Linked DNA regions of Homo sapiens. The protein of the gene in region 3 interacts with the protein of the main gene of each other region in a biochemical or structural test. Each region holds a gene or a part of one and is shown on either strand. Other genes may lie near its edges.

Region 1 (5,831 bases), on a different chromosome or scaffold from region 3:
TTTCTCAATAATCACTCACTCCTCTGCATGAGAAGCCATCCATATGGTGACATGGCTGACAACCTTGGAAATTGTCTTCAGAACAAGTTTGTGAATCCCACTTACCAGAATTCTTAATACCATTACGTTTTAGGTATAGCTCATGCCCTGAGGATTTCTATTCCACCACAGAGTTTCACGTCCAGCTCCCCGGAATCCGAGGTTCCCTAGGCACGCCTCCTAATATCGCTGCCAAGGACCAAGAGCCTGTGCCCTTCAACCTCACTGTTCTTAAAGCTTCTCGGCTCCTGAGTTTTACAGGTAAGATTCTGTTTAAGAGGCTCCCTGTTGAAAAAAAATATGAGGTCCATTGCTTACGTGGCTATGACTGCAACATAAAAGGAAATCTACCTTTTAAAGAATCGCTTCCGTTTTTAATAGTTTTTTTAAAGAACATTTACATATACATGTACGTATCTAATTTTACATATATAGAAAATTTCCTTTTATACTTGGTCCCCACCCCCATATTCCAATATACTGACAAATAAAATTATGACCTAGTGTGAGTCAAGTATTTTCTGCACTCATACATTCATATACAATATAAACACACAGAAATACATGTAAGAGATTTTGTTATCCCTTATTAAAAAATGTAATGTAAAACTTTTCACTTTGCTATTAAGAATTCGTGTTTTAAAAAAATATTAGCAATTTCAGGGCTAACAGCATTTTCTCATCCTTTGATGCATACCTTCAACGAGGTCTCATTTCCTGTAACAGTGTCCCCTTCTCTAGCTGACTGTCCCCATTAACTAACAGAAGATACTTTATTACTCATCCCCTGACCTTTGGATGTTTACCTTGCTGTAAACATCCAAAACAATTTCTACAAGTTGCTCTGTTACAGTGATAAAACTGAAGATGGTGTTTTTTCACGTTAAAGTTTCAACTTTTTTCAAGTGTTTGTTTTTTCTCATTCACAATAATATGAAAGCTTTGACTCCATTTCAGCATTTTATGGTTAAAAAGAAAAGCAGTGCAGTTAGGTAATAAAATTACCTCATTTATAAAAATATTATAAAATGAATGGCATAAAGTTAGGTTTGAGACAACAAATACCTTTTTTCCCTTTGTCCGACACACAACATTTACTGAGCCTCTGTGCCTAAAACAAGGTGGACGTGTTTTATGCGTTATTTCATTTAATTCAATGGCCTGAAGTAGCACATCCTATGACTCCTACTTTACAGAAATTCAAGTGGGGAGGATGTTAATTTGTCTAATGTACACAATCACTAAGTAGCAGAGGCAAGATTCAGAGCAGGGCTTGTCTGACCTAAAACCACAGATAGCGATCTGCCTCTCCGATGAGGAGAACAAAAAAAAATATTTAATGCCTTCGAAAAATAAACATTTCATGATGGGGCAGTGCCAATTTGGTGGCAGAGCTAACGAAATTATTTCCAGAATAATCCATTCAAAGTGACTTATGTTTATCTGAAAACTCTCTCAATATCCAGGAGCCATGGTATAGCCTTGGGAGCAGCGTGCTCTCATCAAAACGACATGTGTAGGCCACGGTTTGGCACTGACCTTCTCAACATTGCAGTGAATGTAGCCTTTAGAGCAGCTGCTTTAAATCCTGAATATTTCTTTCTCCCCCTACAATGGACCCCTGAAAGAGATAAAGTTGTAAGAAAATACTGCATCTAAAAAACACAGCAGGTTGAGGGCACTCCTGTGATCCTTCCTGAAAATGGAGGTATCTAGAGTAGACATGAGATCTTTGCTACCGTGGAGTTGTACGACATATGGGAAACAAAGATAAGGACAGAAACATATTCAGCCTTGGCTTTCGCTTGCAAGTCACTATGTTACAATAATTCTCAACTCTAAAACTAGTGCTTACCTCTGGTCTTTACCAAATTCTGGGTCAAAGAAGGTATAACTAAACTGAAGACGAGGCAGGTGGATTACCTGAGGTCAGGAGTTCGGGACCAGCTTGGCAAACGTGGTGAAACCGTCTCTACTAAAAATACAAAAATTAGCTGGGCGTGGTGGCAGACGCCTGTAATCCCAGCTACCTGGGAAGCTGAGGCAGGAGAATCGTTTGAACCCTGGAGGCAGCGGTTACAGTGATCCAAGATTGCACCATTGCACTCCAGCCTGGGTGGCAGAAAGAGACTGTCTCCAAACAAAGCTGAAGAGATCAGAAGGCCAAAGAATTAAAAACTACTCTTCAACATAAATACTAATGCTATTCTTAAAAATCCTACAACCACAATAGCATTAGTATGCACTGCTTTAACTTTTAACTGAATATCCTGCATCCAACAACCTTGACTACACAGAATTGAGAATCCCGAGGTAAACAAAATACCCTCTAAGCAGCAGTCCCAATATCCATGCGCTACAGCTCATATCTACCCCGCTGAAGAATCCTTCCAGCACAAACTATGTACTTATTTTATGCAGTTCTAATAAGTTACTTAATAACATCTTTGAGGGTTTTCTATGTGTTTTGTGTTAAACATTTTTCTTGCATCTTCATATTCCAGCCCTGTGAGGTAACATGTCCAAGTTTTTCCATCTAGGAATTACTTCAATTCAAATTCCATTATATGTGATTCCACAATGGGTGTTATCACTACGCCATTAATTCTCAAACTTTAGCGTCCAGGTGCATTGGTATCAACTGGAAGGCTTGTTAAAATATATTTCTGATTCAGTAAGTTTGGGATAAGACCCCAAAATGTGCATTTCCAAGAAGTTCCCAAGTGATGCTGATCCTAGCGTCCTGGGATTATTTAGAAACCAATGCACTTCTATTCTTCTTTGAAAGAATACTTGCTTTCCACAGCGACGGCAGGCCTGCAGCAAACCAGAAGCCTTTAAAGTTTATTAGAACTACCTCAAAAAGACACACAACTGTGAGAAATTAGATAAAGCCTTCTAATAAGCAATTTCAAAGAGAAAAAAGAAAAGCCTGGGAGTCACTGAGTGTACTGCAGAGACCCAAACACCTCGATAATTGAATCATAACTAGGCAGGCACTCATTCATTTTGACAGTAACGCTGAGTCTTCAAAAGAGTTTATGCTCAGTTTAGAAAAACAAATAAGGCTGTGATCCGTTTCTTGTAAACGTTTATCCAAAGGTTTTTAGGGGTTGGACAGAAAGGGTTTACTTTGGCGGATTTTTTGTCCTCTAATAAAAGTTATTACTGCGGTGAGGCTTAGACTTGTTCTGAGAAACTGAAAGCTGTCCCGAGAGCACCTGAAACTGCATGCTCTGTTGCTGATGCAACGTCACTTCAAACTTCCTGCTTTCAAAAGGAACCCTTTAAACTCGCTCAGCGCCAACCCCTTCCTCCGAGTGTGGGCACGTCGTTCCCGTGCGGTCCGGCGGAGATGCGGCAACTTCGACAAGACCCCAGGTGGAGTTACCCCAGGAAACGCCCTCCCCGCTCTCGGACTTGCCCCGGACGGGGAGGCTGTGCCTCCAGCCCCGCCATGCCTCCCTCGCCCTAGCCCCCCGGGAGGCGCCGACCTCCGCCCAGCAGCCCCAGCCCGGCCGCCAGCTCCCGCAGCCCGGGGAAACGGCGAGAGATGCCGCTCACAACCAACGACAGCAGCCGGACCAAACAGACGCGGAAACTCACGCTCTCTACGACCCGCCTGCGTCCCCACGTCTTCGCGCGCACGTGCGTCATCACGCACGTTCCCGATCCGGGGCGCCCCGGGTTCCTGGGGCCGGGTGCGGGAGGGGAGGGCCTTAAAGCGGACGGCTCGGCCGCGGCGCATGCTTAGTTGTGCGCGCCCGCGCTCTGCTGTCTGCAGACCGCGTGCGCCGGCAGTGGCTCTAAGGGGGCCGCGAGGGCACAGCGGGGCAGGACCGCGGCAGAGCGCAGTAAGGAGAGTGTGGACCCTCGCCCTGTCCTCTAAGCTCCATGTGAAATGTGGATAATATTCCTTACTGCCATAAATAGCCACTGGCCGCTGACTACGCGTAAGGCAAACAAGCGACCTGCGTTCAAGGGACCCGAAGACTAGGGGAGAAGCAGCGAGCGGGTCGCGGCCGCCTACCCAACGGACGCCTCTGCCCAGGTTCTCTGCCGGGAAGCTTCGTCCTTCCGGGCCCCAGCGCAGCCGGAGGCTGGGGAGCTGCTGCCTGGAAGGGTCAGATACCGCCTGTTAGGCGGAGGGTGGGAAAGACACTCTCCTGCTTCAGGAGCTATCGCAGACAACCGGAGGGCGGCTTATCGCAGAGTCCCAGAGCCAGCCAGCAAGGCAAGGTCGCGGGTGCACCTTTCACTCCCAGAAGCTTGGGTCTGGGACTGCACCACGCAACGTTTGCCCATTTTGAGGGCTTTAGGTGTTTCATATTTCAGTTAATAGAATTTCGATTAATACATAATTTGATACCATTTTAATTGTTTGCTACTCGGGAGCAAGTTTTATGTTTAGCTGTAGGAGTTAGGCTAAGTTAAATGTTGCAATGCTATATATATTTAATAGGATATGAAAAAACTATCTTACAGCCGGGCGCGGTAACTCACGCCTGTAATCCCCGCACTTTGGGAGGTCGAGGCAGGAGGATCGCTTGAGCTCAGGAGTTTGAGACCAGCCTGGACAACATAGTGAGACCTTGTCTCTATTTAAAAAACAACAACAGGCCTGGCGCGGTGGCCCACGCCTGTAATCCCAGCACTTTGGGAGGCTAAGGCGGGCGGATCACCGGAGGTCAGGAATTCAAAACCAGCCTGGCCAACATGGCGAAACCCTGTCTCTACTAAAAATACAAAAATTAGCCAGGCATGGTTGCGGGCGCCTGTAATCCCGGCTACTCGGGAGGCTGAGGCAGGGGAATCCTTGAACCCGGGAGGCAGAGGTTGCAGTGAGATCGCGTCCATGCACTCCAGCCTGGGCGACAGAGCATGACTCTATCTCAAAAAAAAAAAATCTTACTATTTGGTATGGAATTTTCTGATAGCTAGGGTAAAGATGCTCTTTTTCCAAGAAGGAATCCGAGTATCCGAATACAGGTGGTTTAGTGTTACTCTTTGTTTATTGGAAGTTGTAGCAGCTGTGTTTAGATAGTCTGCTAAAACAAAAACTGCCTAAACCAGAAGAGTTTATCTTTTGCCATTGTGTATTAAAACTCTTCATAGAAATATTTATTTTGGAGTTTGAAATTTAAGTGAAAATGTGGCTCATGCATAGGTGTGGGTGTACATATGACTTTCAAGTGACAAAGAAGATTCTTAGCAAATTGTACGTGTTCATTAAGACTCATAAGTTACCTCTTTCCTAGAAAAACAATATACTCCTCCAAAAGCTCAACTGACAATGAGAAACTGCATTTCTGGACATGAAAAGTCAAATGAATGCGGGGAAAAGTAAATTGCCTATAGAGGTATTTTCTGTATTTCCCTAGAGGGGGAAATGTGTAATTTCTCAAAAGGAAGAAGTCCTCATTTATCCTTCTGAACCACAATCATATGAATCCATTCAATTAATATTAATCTTATCTTCTATTCTCCATCACTCTCTACATCTTTCTATAATTGCATCATTTTCTTGTCCGTATAATACATCAAATGCAGAGGTGATTTTAAGGGAGCCACAAATCAAGAAGTCTCAATTCAATAATTTCGTTAAAATGTAAGAAATATATACGGATTAAGAATATTCTTAGGTAATTATGTTCTGTTTCAAATATCAGTGAAAATTTTCATAGACATTTAAGGGGTAAAAGACATTTAACAGATAGAAAAAAATATCTACCTTTTAAAAAATGACCTTCTCTTTTGTCCTACGTGATTTGTTGAGCAGACTGGGTTTTTTA
Region 2 (5,256 bases), on a different chromosome or scaffold from region 3:
ATTATAATGTTCATGAGGCAATAAAATGCTTTCTTTTTTGGGGTACTCATTGAAATTAGCCCTTTCAGCCAGCATCTAAAGAATACAGATTCTACTTTCTGGAAAGAAGCATGCAGAGCCTGTGACTTTTATTTATTTTAAAGTCCTGAGATGACTGAATATGGATGAACACCAAGTGGAATAACATATCTGAACAGACTTTTGTTTGAGCTGGTGATAAAATTCTGTATTGGTTTAAGAATCACATGTCATGTGATTTTTATAGAATTCTTCATCTTGAAAACAGAACAAAAATAGCAAGCTGTTGATAAATGAGCATCCTCCACCCGCAACTTGACATGTCGCAAGGCTTACTCTTAAAGATCTCCAGTCCCATTCATATTCCCAGACTTAGACCCTGCCCACATATGAAATGAACTGTACAATTAAATTCTGCCCGTTTAAAGCCTCTTTGATCATATAGAAAATAAAGCAAAACCATTATTTAAAACTTTGCACACTGACTGCTTGTGCATACAAAGTACCTATAGAATGGTAATTGAAATCTCAAGATATGAAGTCAAACTTTCTGATTTCAAATCCCAACTCCAACACTTCCAAGTTGTATGAGTTGGAGAATGTTGTGTAACTAGTCTGTCATTCAGTTTCATCATCTGTAAAACCAAAATGTTACCTTCCTTGTGAGTTTGTTATTATTATTGGTTTTTTTCTTTTGTTTTCTTTTTTTTTTTTTTTGAGACAGAGTGTCACTCTGTCACCCAGGCTGGAGTGTAATGACATGATCTCGGCTCACTGCAACTTCTGCCTCCCAAGTTCAAGTGATTCTCCTGCTTCAGCCTCCCAAGTAGCTGGGATTACAGGTGCCCGCCAGCTAATTTTTGTATTTTTAGTAGAGAGGGGGTTTCACGATGTTGATCAGGCTGGTCTTGAGCTCCTGACCTCAGGTGATCCGCCCACCTCAGGCTCCCAAAATGCTGAGATTACAGGTATAAGCCACCACGCCCGGCCTGTTGTACTTATTAAATAACATGTTTGGAGTTTTTTGTTTTTGTTCTTTTTTTTTTTTTTTAGACAGGGTGTCACTTTGTCCAGCCCAGGCTAGAGTGCAATGATGCAATCATAGCTCACTGCAACCTCAAACTCCTGGGCTCAAGCAATCCTCCCACCTCAGCCTCCCAAGTAGCTGGGAATACATGCATGCATCACCATGCCCAATTTACTTCTTTATTTTTTGTAGAAGCAGGGTTTTGCTATGTTGTCTGGGCTGGTCTTGAACTCCTGGGCTCAAGTGATCCTCCCGTCTTGGCCTCCCAAAGTACCAGGAGCCACTGCACCTGACTAAATAACATGCTTTTTAAAAAAGTGCATGCCATGGTATTTGACATTTGTAAAAACACTAAAATGTTATTGCTATTATCACCCTCAATGTGAATTAGCTCTAATTAGCACATTAGCACTCAAAAAATCCCATTGGGATGGAAATATGTCCTCTCATTAGTTCTAGGTGTTAACCCACAGGAACGACTCTCAACTCTTTTTTGCCTATCCTCCTGAAAAGATGACACCATGTCAAGTTCATCTTAGCTTCCCCTTTGCACGTGTGGCACAGCACACATTAAGGCACAGTGCAGTATAGTAGTTAAGCTCATTCTCTGGACTCAATTAAACTTGGAGTTGAATCCTGTCTTCTTCATTTAATTTTTCTGACTCGTAGTTCCCTGTTTATAAAATGAGTTAAAAGTAAAGGTATCTACCTCATGATGTTATTATAAGGTTTTGATAAAATAATGGATGCAAAGTTTTCAGCATATGCTAATAAAAGCAACAGCAAACATTTATATACTACTTACCATGTGCTAGGCCCTGCTTTAAGCACTTTGCTTGTATTAACATGTTAAATCCCCATAACAATCCTATGATATTGGAGCTATTACTATCTTCACTTTGCATATGTAGAAACCAAGATTGAGTGAAATGAATAACTTGTTCATGGTCATATTAATGGTAAGTAACATGTCAGAATTAAAATCCAGGCAGTTTACCTTCATCCTGGGATCTTAATCACTATGCCCTTTTCCCTCCCAATAGTATGTGCTTGTCAAATATTTGCTATTACTGCAGTAATCAATAAGTATTTATTAAAATATTTAATGAATCAATATCTGCTGAAGTATTTGTTTATTATTTACTATAAATTACTAAGTAGCACATCTTCTTATAGGCCACAAAAATGGACTCCTTTGCTTATAAGTTTTTGAAGAAATTCTCAGATTCTGCCTACCCAGATAATTAATAAGGTGTATAACAGGGAAGGCAATTCAAAATATGTTCCCATCTACTACAACAGCTGCCATTTGTATAATTAGATTTTAAAATAATTTAAAATAAAACAGTGGTATATGATTTGTTGCAAATGACTGACTTCACCTAAAATATGCATCATCACCTATTTCAAAACCTTTACTTAAACAGGAAACAAAACTACAGGAGGTAACTTTGAAAATTGTATGAATAGTCTTAATAATACTCTTAAAAATCATAAATCAAAATATATAACAGCTTGCTTCCATAGTTTGAGGTTTATTATTATATTGCCTAAACTTCAATACAAAATTTTAAATATGAAACATAAAATGCAAAATAATTTTTTCCTTGGATAATTTAATAGTTAGAGACATACCTCACTGCACTTCACTTTATTGTACCTCACAGATATTATTTTTACAAATTGAAGGTTTGTGGCAACCCCAGGTTGTGCAAGTCTATTGGTGCCATTTTTCCAACATGGGCTCATGTCATGTCTCTGTGTCACATTTTAGTAACTCTCACAATATTTCAAACTTTTCCATTATTATTAAATCGGTTATGGTGATCTGTGATTGGTGATCTTTGATGTTACCATCAGAATTGTTTTGGAGAACCATGAACTATGCCCATATAAGATGGTGACCTTAACCAGTAAATCCTGTGTGTGTTCTGACTGCTCCACCAGCCACCCATTTCCCTATCTCTCTCCCTGTCCCTGGCCCTCTCCACTCTCTGAGACACAACAATATTGATAGTATGCCAATTAACCCTATAATAGTCTCTAAGTATTCAAGTGAAACATAGAGACACAAATCTCTCACCTTAAGTCAAAAGCTAGAAATGATTAAACTTAGCAAGGAAGGCACAGTGAAAGCCAAGATAGATCAAAAGCAGGCCTCTTGATTCAAGTTGTGAATGTGAAGGAAAAGTTCTTGAAAGAAACGTAGCATGCTATTCCACTGAACACACAAATGATAAGAAAGTGAAATAGACTAATTGCTGATAGGGAGAAAGTTTGAGTGGTCTGGATAGATCAAACCAGCCACAACATTTCTTTAAGTGAAAATCTAATCCAGAGAAGGTCCTAAGTCTCTTCAATTTATGAAGGCTGAGAGAAATGAGAAAGCTGTGCAACAAAAGTTGGAAGCTAGCAGAGATTTGTTCATGAGGTTTAAGGAAAGAAGTCATCTCAGGCCTGGCATGGTGGCTCATGCCTGTAATCCCAGCACTTTGGGAGGCTGAGGCAGGTGGATCACCTTAGGTCAGGAGTTCCAGACCAGCCTGGACAACATGGTGAAACCCCATCTCTACTAAAAACACAAAAATTAGCAGGGCGTGGTGGCACGCACCTGTAATCCCTGCTATTCAGGAAGCGGAGGCAGGAGAATTTGCTTGAACCCAGGAGGTGAAGGTTGCAGTGAGCCAAGATCGTGCCACTGCACTCCAGCCTGGGTGACAGAGCAAGACTCCATCTCAAAAAAAAAAAAAAAAAAAGTCATCTCTGTAACATAAAAGTGCAAGGTGAAGCAGCAAGGGCTGTTGCCAAAGCTGCAGCAAGCTCTCCAGAAGATCTGGCTAAGATAGTTGATGAAAGTGGCTAAACTAAACAACACATTTTCATATAGATGAAACAGCCTTACACTGGAAGAAGATGTCAGCTAGGACTTTTATAGCTAGAGAGGAGGAGTCGATGCTTGGCTTCAAAACTTCAAAGTACAGGCTGACTCTCTTGTTAGGGGCTAATGTAGCTGGTGACTTTAAGTTACATGCTCACTTACTATTCAAAAAGTTCTAAGGCCCTTATGAATTATTCTAACTGTAACCAGATGCAGTGGCTCATGACTGTAATCCCAACACTTTGTGAGGCCAAGGCAGGAGGATTGCTTGAGCCCAGGAGTTCAAGGTGTCAGTGAGCTATGATGATCCCACTGTACTTCAGCCTAGGCAACCGAGCAAGACCTTTCATCTATGAAAATGCAAATACAAATAAATAAATAATTATTCTAAATCTATAGATTTAGAAAATGTGCTCTATAAATAGAATAACAAAGCCTGGGTAACTGTTTACAATATGGTTTCTTGAATATTTTAAGTCCACTATTAAGAACTACTGCTCAGAAAAAAAATATTTCTTTCTGAATATTACTTCTGGTTGATAACACACCTGTATTAGTCCATTCTTATGCTGCTAATAAAGACATACCCGAGACTAGGAAATTTGTAAAGAAAAAGAGGTTTAATGGACTCACAGTTCCGCATGGCTGGGGAGGCCTCACAATCATGATGGAAGGCACATCTCACATGGTGGCAGGCAAGAGGACATACTCAGGGGAACTCCCCTTTATAAAACCATCATGTCTCGTGAGACTTGCTATCATGAGAACAGCATGGGAAAGACCGGCACCTATGATTCAATTACCTCCCAATGGCTCCCTCCCATGACATGTGGGAATTATGGGAGCTACAATTCAAGATGAGATTTGGGTGGGGACACAGCCAAACAATATCATACGTGGTCACCCAAGAGTTCTGATGGAGATGTACAAAGAGATTAACATTGCTCACACGTCTACTAACACAACATCCACTCTTCAGCTTGTGGATCAGGGAGTAATTTTGACTTTCAAGTCGTATTATTTAAGAAATACATCTCATAAGAAAACAGCTGCCATAGATAGTGATTTTTTTGTTGGAACTAGGCAAAATAAATTGAAAACATTCTGGAAAGGATTCACCATTCTAGATGTCATTAAGAACATTCGTAATTCATGGGAGGTGGTCAAAATATCAACATTAACAGGAGTTTGGAAGATGTGGACTCCAACCCTCCTGAATGAGTTTGAGGTGTCCAAGATGTCAGTGGAGGAAATGAAGTGCAGATGTGGTAGAAACAGCAAAAGAAGCAGAAGTGGAGCCTGAAGATGTAACTAAATTTATGACATTTTAATC
Region 3 (4,390 bases):
ACTCAGTTTCCTCCGAGTGAGGAGGTTCAGGTCTGATGCATGGATGTCCATGCCGAGGCTGGCCTGTGAGTAGACGTCGTGACACCCGAAGCACATGATGCTGCTGAAGCTTTCCTTGTACCCCCCCATGGTGTTGGTCAGTGAGGTTTCCTTCAGAGTCTGTGCCCGGAAGAAGTCCCGTGGCTGGTAGATCATGACGGGCTCATGGTGCTCCCGCAGCTGCTGGGGGCTCAGGTAATGCTTCACGGTCAGGAGCCCTGGCAGCGTGGTGGCCATGACGTTCTCAATGGTGCTGCACACCGAGTCCAGCAGCAGGCAGCACTTGATCTTCTCCGTCTCCAGGCCGCGGACCTGGACCTCAATGCCCTGGCCGTGGTTGACCAGCAGCACCAGCAGCTCGGCCCCACGGTTGGCCAGCTTGCAGCCATTCACCCACAGGCGGATGTCCGCGTCGCCCTCTGTGCTTTGCTGGTGGATCCACCGGCACAGGTTCACCTGGACCTTGTGAAAGATGCCACATGGGAAGGGGGTGAGGTGTTCCACGGGCACGATGCGCACGCCACCATACACCATCACCTCGTCCTCCTCATCAGCCCAGGAGCGGTGCAGGTTGTCTGTCTTGATCAGGGCTGGGACGTCCACCATGGTCCCGCTGCTCAGGTCCCGGGCGCAGATGTCCATGGCATCGAGGATCTGCAGCAGCTCCTCCACGTCGCTGTCGGGCACCAGGCGCTGGATGTCCTCCACGGTGTAGCGGCCCCGGTAGTGGTGCAGCGCCCGTGGGGTCTCCACGGACAGCAACTTCCCCAGGACGTTTGTGCAGAGCCAGCGGGGGTCCAGGAGCAGCACGTCCTGAACTGTTTCACTTTGCATGATGTTGATCTGCGGGGGGACAACAGAAAGTCACGCTTAGGGACAGAGCCCTGGCCAGGTGCACCAGCCACTTAGAGCACTAAAGGGCCTGATGCCGGCAACAGAGGCTGAGCAGATGCTCTAAGGAGTGACCCAAGGCCATTCCACGTGGATGCGTCTCAAAAACCAAACACCGAGTGGAGAAAAGCAGCTTGAAAATGTCAGAATAGAGATTCTGAAAAACAACTCCCCTGAAGTCTTCAAAAAGGCCAGCGAAATGAAAGAAGAAAAAAAAATGGGAGATGGCAACCAAATGCAATGAGTGATTTTAGACTGGATTCTGAATCCCAAAATAAGTACATAAATAAAAATAGCTTTAAAAGAAATTATTGGGACCAGTGGCAAACCCTTGTATGAGGATGATATATTCAATCATAGTACTATATTAATGTTATGTTTCTGGAATCATCAATTATATTGGGTTATGTGGGAAAATATCCTTCTCCTTAGGAGATATAGGCTAAATTATTTAGGGAAGAAATGTCATCATGTCTGCAAAATAAATAAGTAAATAAATAGAAAGGAAAGGAATCGAGCAAATGTAGCAAAATGTCAACAACTGATCAGCTTAAATGTAGTAGGCTGGGCACCGTGACTCATGCCTGTAATCCCAGCACTTTGGGAGGCCGAGGCGGGTGGATCACTTGAGGTCAGGAGTTTGAGACCAGCCTGGCCAACATGGTAAAACCCTGTCTCTTCTAAAAATACAAAATTTAGTTGGGTGTGATGGCTTGTGTCTGTAGGCTGAGGCAGAATCACTTGAACCCAGGAGGCGGAGGCTGCAGTGAGCCGAGATTGTGCCACTGCACTCCAGCCTTGGCAACAGAGTGAGACTCTATCTCAAAAAAAAAAAAAAAAAAATTAATTAATTAATTAAAAAAATAAATAAATGTAGCCTATATGAGAGTTCATGGTACTATCCTTGCAACTTCTCTAAAGGCTTGAGAACATTTTCAAAAAAGAGTCAGAACATTCTATTATTATACCATTATGTGAATGTTTAACACACACACATAGAAAAGGCCTGAAAGGATATGCTGCCATGATAATAGTTGGCCTCCGAGAAGGGGAGAGAGGAGTGAGACCAGAGATGATGGCCCAAGGGGACTTTAGCTTTTTGGTTGTGTTTATTTCTTAAAAAAATAAAAAGAAAGGAAAAAAAAGTGACAAAAAACAGAAGGAACTTTCCCTTTATGGAAGAGTTCTGCTTCCTTTCTTGGAGAGTGGCCATCGCCCTGGACTCCCTCACTTGGAGGCTCTGACCCCACCGGTGACCACACAGTAATTTCCTGCCCACAGTCTGGCTTAAACCTGAAAGATGCCCCCTGTCTAAGAGTCTATTCAGAATTGAACCTAGGTTGAAAATTCCTGGAGGGCAGAGCCAATATTGATCTAGTTCCTGATACAGCATTTGCTGGAATACCATTTGCAGTTTGGTCCTAAACACTGCTCATCGCCTCAGGCTCAGGAAAGACGAAACTGTCCCATAGTGGAGGAGAACAGGGAGCTAAGACAGTCAGCTAAACGTAGTGTGGGACCCTGGGCCAGAAAACAGAGTCAGAAGGGCCACTGGGGAGTTCTGAAGATCTGCAAATTAGATACGGAAGGCAGGTCTGGAGGAGGCCCGGGGCCAATCAAAGTCGGGCCACACAATGTAGTTCCTGCTGCCTAATTACCCTCCTTCTTTACATCTTCATTTACTTACTAAACTCTCAAGGGCAAGCAGGGATGTAATGACAAATAAAGGAGACTATATGATATGATCTAGAAAGTTGCTGGTCTACTACTAGAAAGCAAGGGACTCCTGTGCCAAAGGAGTTTAGAATTAGAATTGACACATTTTTTACATCCAGCAGTATCTTGTCATCTAAGATGTGGTCCTTCACCTGTGTTCTTCCTTGGATTCAATCACTTTAAAGTATTCCTGGATGAGTTGGCAGATTCTCTGGCCATTTAACTGGGAGTTTAAAGGCTGATGAAATTACTGCCCGGCGACTCCAGTTTTCAAGGTCACTGGCTTGTGGATTCAGGTTTAGTTTCAAGAAATTTGTATGACTCATACAAACTGGCTATAGGGCCAGACCTGGCACCTGAGATTGGGGAGGTAAGCATCTGGCTTTTAATAATCTCAGAGCTGCTTTTAGTTGCAATATTCAGAACCGCTCTTCTTGGCCCACACTAGTTCATGTAGGCTCCCAATTTCACATGGTGGAGAAACACGAAGGCACTGCCCCCGTTCCTGGGACAGGCATATGATGCCATTAGAACAGGGTTTCCAAACCGCGCCCTGGTGCTCAATGTCACAGAACCAGAGCAAAGCCTCCCATTCTCAATCATTTCTGCTGGGCATTGCTTGCTAGAGTTTTTTAATGTGCATCTTTAATTATGATTACTCTGTGTATCTGTGCACCAGAGTTCTCTGTCTTTGTATCTCCAGACATTGCCTCCACAAGGACACCTCACTGCCTTTTCTCAACTGTTTTCCCACCCAGGAGATCTGTGTGGAGCTGATGACTCCACGCTGATACAAAGAAGCCATCCTGAAGGCTGCCAGGAGTAGCAGATTAAGTTCCTGGTGCCCAGGGGGAGTGAAGAGAGACCCAGTCACCCAGGGCAGTGGGCACTGCACTCCCAAACTAACAGACTCTGGAAATAAAAGCAAAACACGACAAGACAAAATGACAGCTCCTAAGGTGAGCCGAGAACTGCAGTTCAGAGCGTCACTTGAGGCTGTGTTTGTCACACGTGTGGAAATGTTGTAGGTTAGCTGGACCATTTCCACACTGCTTCCCCAGGCTCACACCACTTCCAAGAGCTGGAATTTGGGACAGGCTGAGTCCCTGGCACCTCTCACGGCCCCCTGCCTGGGCTCCCAGGGGCTCACCTCGCCTGTGCTGTGGAGCTGCTGAGCAATGCGCCTGAGGTCCTCCTCGCTGGCCAGGGGGTTCAGCTGGTCCTGCACGTCGTACACAAACTGCTGCAGCGACATCAGCTGGTTGGGTCCATTGAGCTTCCTCCAGGAAGGCAGCGTGGAGATGATTTTCTCACACAGGTGAGTCATGGGAGGACAGACCTAGAGGGGGCAGGGCCAGACAGGTTAACTCACCTGCAGCTGTGGGTGCCCTGAGCAGAGCCACAGTGGAAAGGACACCTTTCATTCAGGCGCCTTGCAGGTGATTTGATGAACGAGTGGGTTTTTTTGTTGTTGTTGACGTTTTTTTTTCTTTTTTTAGACTGGGTCTCGCTATTGCCCAGGCTGGTCTCAAACCCTTGGGCTCAAGTAATCCTCTTGTCTCAGTCTCCTGAGTAGCTCCGACTACAAGTACACACCACTGTGTCTGGCTAGTTTGTGTTTTTTGGGTTGAGTACTGGGGCAGTTGTCTTTTAGACTTGCTTTTAAGCCTCATCTATTGCTCAAATATAAAGTTTTATAAAGGCTCTTTAGTTCATGTTAAATAGATTTTGAGTCTTCTAGGAA
Region 4 (5,256 bases), on a different chromosome or scaffold from region 3:
CATCATGCTAAAATTTGCACATTTTTGACATTATCCCATAATTGTAGTAAGTTATATTTGTGAGGTAGTGTGGGTTAACAGAAGCAACGTGAGGAAACTTCAGTGTCAGAGACAGAATTGGGCACAAATTCCAATTTCATTGCTCTCTAGGTAGGTGACGTAGGGCACATTTTATAAGCTCACTGAGCCTCAGGATTCCCCTATTTAAAATAAGAGTAATATCTGCTATGTAAAATTGTTAGGTATGTATAATAGACAACACACATCAAATACAGTGTGTATACTATGTGATACATCACACTAGATTCTTTGTCACAATTGAAAAATACTTCATTATTGCACACAAACATTTTAAGGCCCTTTGATGCTATATTTTAATTCATTTTAAGACTTCCTACACAGAAACATACAGGACGAAAATCTGCTCCAGTGGTAACTGCTGGATCTTATATTGTGGCACACTGCTGGCTCTGCCTAATTAATTACTATCTTGCCCTTCCTCAAGTGCACCCTTCTCATTTTCTAGGATATCTTGGAGCATAACCTGTCAGAAAATAGTCTGTTATAAAGTACAATACCAGTAAGTCCACTAATTTCACACATCTTTTTGTATTTAAGAAGAATCATCTAGAACTCATCAAGTCACACAATCAAGATCTTGTCCCAGATTAAACTGAGCTAGCTGATTGGATCACCCACACCAGTCCTGCCAATTTAGAAAAAACCTAAAGATGAGCTTTATAATTGGAACTCTTTGTCATTTGATTAAATCAACAGAGAGCTTTATCTGAAAGGCTGGGGCAGGCAGATCATTCAAATCACAGCATTTGATTCCTTCTTACACCTCCCTTTTCACATCACATATCCATTTCATAATTACTTTGGGCCTCAACTTCCATATTTGTTAAATGTTTGTAAGAGTCCCCAGGCATAATGACATCTGGGTGCAGCTGGTAGAATTTGTATGAGGATTTAATGAAATAATGCAAGCACAGTACTTAGAATGGTACCTGGTATATATATCTAGGAAAACTCAATAACTCTTAGCCATGGTTAAGGTTTTTTTGTCTCCTTGAGGAAAAAAAGGAGGTTCCCATGGCTATATCTGTGCATCAGTGTATAAGTCATCTGTTTCATTATATTTATATATTTAGTTATTTATAACTAAACTTTCTAGTAGGCTGTGGTGATAGAGAAAGACGATGTACCTTAGGGCCCCCTAAAGGATTTGTTGAGGGACGCAGATTTATGAAAAGAGAAAAGACTGGAAGTTAGAAGACAAAAATTTTTGCTGGACAACTAACTCATCACATGACCTTGAGCAGTCTTCTTGCCTTTCTTTCATCTCTAAAATGAGGTTTAAAAAGTCTACTGCATAGGATTCTCAGAAAAATTAACTAAGACAACTTAAATATCTAAATTCAACTTGCAACACAGACTAACCACTTTCTTGGTGCCAGATATAAATTTATTTTTATAAACATTAATCAAAAGTCAGAACAGAAACAACATTTAGGGTAGATTACTTACAGGCTTTGCTGGCTTCTCACTCTCTCAAATATTAAAAGATCTACTCCCAGACCAAGCCAGGTCATCAGAGAAATATATACCTAAATTAAATCCTATTGTTCCTCCTGCAGAAAACTCATTATCGAATTACACTAGAGTGTGATGCCAACACACCACACTGATAGTTCTCACAAGAATAAGCCCTGTAAACCTTTCATTTGCATTGTAAGGAGGCTACCAAAAACATTTTTTATTACCTCCACAATGAATTCCTTATGAGATCCTCCAGGAGAAAGCCCAGCCTGGACTTAAGACTAAAAATGTTATTACACGTCCTAAGTATTAGAAGCTGGTGGCTTCCAGTATAGTTTTACTGTTTAGAGTCCAAGGAACAAGCAATGAACGCATTCCTTCATTCATTCAAAATATTTATTGAGCATCTACTATGGGCCAGACTCTCTGCTAAGATCCAGAAATGCAATTCTAAAGAAAACAGGAAGTATCTTTGCCTTCACTGACCTAGAGAGTAGTGGGAAGGAACAGATGATTAAATAAATGATTATAATACAAATATGTATTATATAATATAATGATATAGAGCAAGCTGAAAAAGATGCTGGGTAACTAGGTAAGATCTGTTGCCTCCCTGGGTGGGCTGCAAGGCTCAAATAAAGTCAAACTCTGACCAACAGAATAGCAGTGCCCTAGAAGAAAGCTACACGCTTCCGTGGAAATCAGGGAAGAAAGACACAGTGAGAAAAAGACTAGAAATAGGTGGATGGGTAGAGATACTGAGAACCTAATGCTGTCTATACCATGACCAGAAGTGGTCTATTTATGTACTTTGCAACACTGTAACAGTCTGCTTGAGTAGAATTACATTGTGTAGAGTATTCATAACTATATGAAATCATTTCATGAGCCCCTGGAGAAACTGGCCTGACTTTGTGACTCTAAATGACTAAGTAGAAGAAGGTATCAAAGACAGAATGTTGTTTGAGATATAATCTTAGGGATTTTATTTATTAAATTGAGTCATATTAGTATAGCTTTATTAGTTTATTTCCATCACCACTACCATATGAAAGGAGAGAGAAATATCCAGGCTATATTGAGATCATAAACCCCGCCTTCAAATGAATTTTTGTTCTCAAAGATGCTGGAAATTCAGAGCAAAGAATTAAATATCTAAGAGGGATTGGGATTACAAAAGTTTAATTGAGCAGTTTTAGTCATAGTCCTATCACGTAACGAAGTAACACATGAGACTTGGAGATTATGTGAGGAATTCAATGAACTTGGTACCTCATGTGCTTGGTACAATAATAATAATAATAACCAATATTTATTGAAGGTTTATCTTGTGGCAAATACTGGTTCTAAGTGTTTTCCCTGTATTAACTAACAACAATCTCATATGGTAGGCAGTATTGTCATTTTACAGCTGAGGAAACTGAGGCATAAAGAGACATGGCAACATTTCCAAGTCGTATGATTGGTAAGTTCAAACCTAGTCAGTCCAACTCCACGGCCCAGGCTCTTAGCCACTACTGCATTCTCCCAATACAGTAGTCTAAGAGCGTCTAAGGGAAGCTCAAAGGACATATCAGAGAACTCTGCCTCAGGATATACACAGGAGTTCATCTTCTCCTCTCTGGGGCCTTTATGACATGAAAATGAATGGGATTTCAGCATAACAAGGGGGATCCTGTGCTCTACTCTGCTCAGAACAGTCAGTGTGGGCCTGTTGTCCCAATGCCCACCAGCATCTCCTTTCACGCCACACGGTTCCAGTTTGGATAATAAGTTACATATTCACCTAAGTCCAGTGGCTAAGAAGTTATGTTCTGAAGTTTGCTGGGTCTATAGTCAAAACCCAGCTTAGCCACCTACTAGCTGTGGGAGTTGAGGCCAATTACTTTGTCTCAATAAGCCTCAATTTTCTCATCTACTAAATGGAAATAATAATAGTCCCCACTTCATAGCATTGTTATGAAAATTCTAGGAGCCAACACATATGAATCAATTTGTATAATCCTTAGCAAATTGTGGGCACCCAATAAAAATTCATTTTTATCAACATTAGATTAAATGTTTGAGAAGGTTTCTTACATTGGCATAACTGTGGTGGACTGCTTTATAAACTTGAGACATCAAAGCATACCTGTGAATCTGGAGCACTTAGACAAGAACCACCATCAGTAGGGAATGTCCAATTTTTCTAAGTAAATCACTGGTACTTCCAGGGGTATCCATTTTAAAATGAAATTATAATGCTAAAGCCATTGGAAATGCAGTTGGGTCTCAGCCACTCCCAGGGATTTTAATCCATTCCATTCTAGGCTCCCTGGGAACCTCACTGAAATGCTAAATTTCATGGTAACATGGAGAAAGTTAAGTATCCTTTCAGCTTATAATCTCTTTGGGGTACATTTTAGCCTCTTGGGCCAATCTGGATTCAAAGTTGTAACTTCTGGCATCATTCTGCATTCAAACATAAGCCACTGACTCACTGTACTTTGTATTCGAGCCCTGGAATAGCTTTAATATTCAGAGAATATCCTTTATATGGCATGGGCATGACCGCAGACCAGTCCTTTTGCTGGCAACTGCAGTAACTGGCTACATGTGTTAGAACCTGCCAAAATGTTTGTCACCCAAGACGGGAGAATCTTGAAAGACAGACTCAATAGATCATAGTCAGGGGCTTGATAAAACCACACAGCTAGTTAGTATACATACTGAACAAATCACCAATTTTTGCTCATTCTTTTTATTTGTTAAATAAAGAGGTTAAATCCATTGAAAAAAAAAGGGGGGGTTAAACCTAACATGGTCTGGCTCTGCGCGGCTTAAGAAGATTCCATCTGCTCAAGAACGATAACCCGCTTCCCCCTTACTTTTAAAAACTTCTACTTCCTCCCATAGTAACCTATTTAATAGTATGCCTGACTGTCAGCAAGTTCTTTGCCTCCAGCCTAGCTTCCTCTCCTCATCATGCAAATTGCCGTTGGCTTTAATTAGATTTAATAAGCCACTGGGAAGTGAAGCGAGGGAAATGGAGAGCAAAGATTATACAGTATGGGCTTACTCTTGCATGTCCAATACAGCATTTCCCTGGAACTCTCATATCCTCCCAGGCTGGGAAAATAAAGAATGCCAAGCGCATGGAAAGACACGCTGCTGCTGCTGCTGTCCAAATGTGAACCGTGGGTGGAGAAAAATCATTTAGAAAAAGAGAGTGAGGGAAAAAAGAAAATGAACCAGAATCCCCAACAGCTGCAAATAACGAAGCATGTGAATCTGTTACCTTGGATGAACTCTGCTTTCCTGCTCACAGACGGCAGGGTCCTGTTGAGCCCCAGGATCCTGTCTAGGTGGAAGGCAAACACCTCACTCATGTCCAAGGGCTGCTTGAGAAGCCCACAGGGGCTAGGGCCACAGCGGAGCACAGCGCCAGGTGCGCCCCCCTCCAGCACCAGCAAACGGGCTCCGCTCCTAGAGGACACAGGCCGGAGCCCTGCCACTGCGCTGTCCGCCAAGAGTCGCATTCTTCGGATGTCATCTTTGCTCAGCCAGGAGGGGGCGCTCTCGCTGTAGATCCTAATGTTGCTCTCCCTGGAGCTGGGCTGCAGGAAGTCTGGGCCCCCGGCTCGCACTCCCGGACCCCGCACCAACCTCCAGGGTCGCTCTCCAATCTTAACCAGGTTTGCTCCCTGAGCGTACCCAGGTGCTACAGCATCAGCT

What was found.
Region 1: the proteins of DAPK1 (region 3) and RHBDD1 form a complex in vitro, tested with the Homo sapiens proteins (one large-scale study listed by BioGRID and IntAct).
Region 2: the proteins of DAPK1 (region 3) and TPD52L1 form a complex in vitro, tested with the Homo sapiens proteins (one large-scale study listed by BioGRID and IntAct).
Region 4: the proteins of DAPK1 (region 3) and GASK1B form a complex in vitro, tested with the Homo sapiens proteins (one large-scale study listed by BioGRID and IntAct).

The regions. Positions count from the first base shown.
Region 1 is NC_000002.12:226,833,902-226,839,732, reverse strand, and holds the start of RHBDD1 (rhomboid-related protein 4), read right to left. Parts: upstream 3,680-5,831; 5' UTR 3,646-3,679; exon of another isoform or gene 1,661-3,645; 5' UTR 1,579-1,660; intron 325-1,578; 5' UTR 106-324; intron 1-105. UniProt on the Homo sapiens protein: Intramembrane-cleaving serine protease that cleaves single transmembrane or multi-pass membrane proteins in the hydrophobic plane of the membrane, luminal loops and juxtamembrane regions.
Region 2 is NC_000006.12:125,159,396-125,164,651, reverse strand, and holds part of TPD52L1 (tumor protein D53), read right to left. Parts: intron 1-5,256.
Region 3 is NC_000009.12:87,702,624-87,707,013, reverse strand, and holds part of DAPK1 (death-associated protein kinase 1), read right to left. Parts: intron 3,986-4,390; coding exon 3,797-3,985; intron 883-3,796; coding exon 1-882. UniProt on the Homo sapiens protein: Calcium/calmodulin-dependent serine/threonine kinase involved in multiple cellular signaling pathways that trigger cell survival, apoptosis, and autophagy.
Region 4 is NC_000004.12:158,165,647-158,170,902, forward strand, and holds part of GASK1B (Golgi-associated kinase 1B), read right to left. Parts: coding exon 4,820-5,256; intron 4,702-4,819; coding exon of another isoform or gene 4,601-4,701; intron 1-4,600.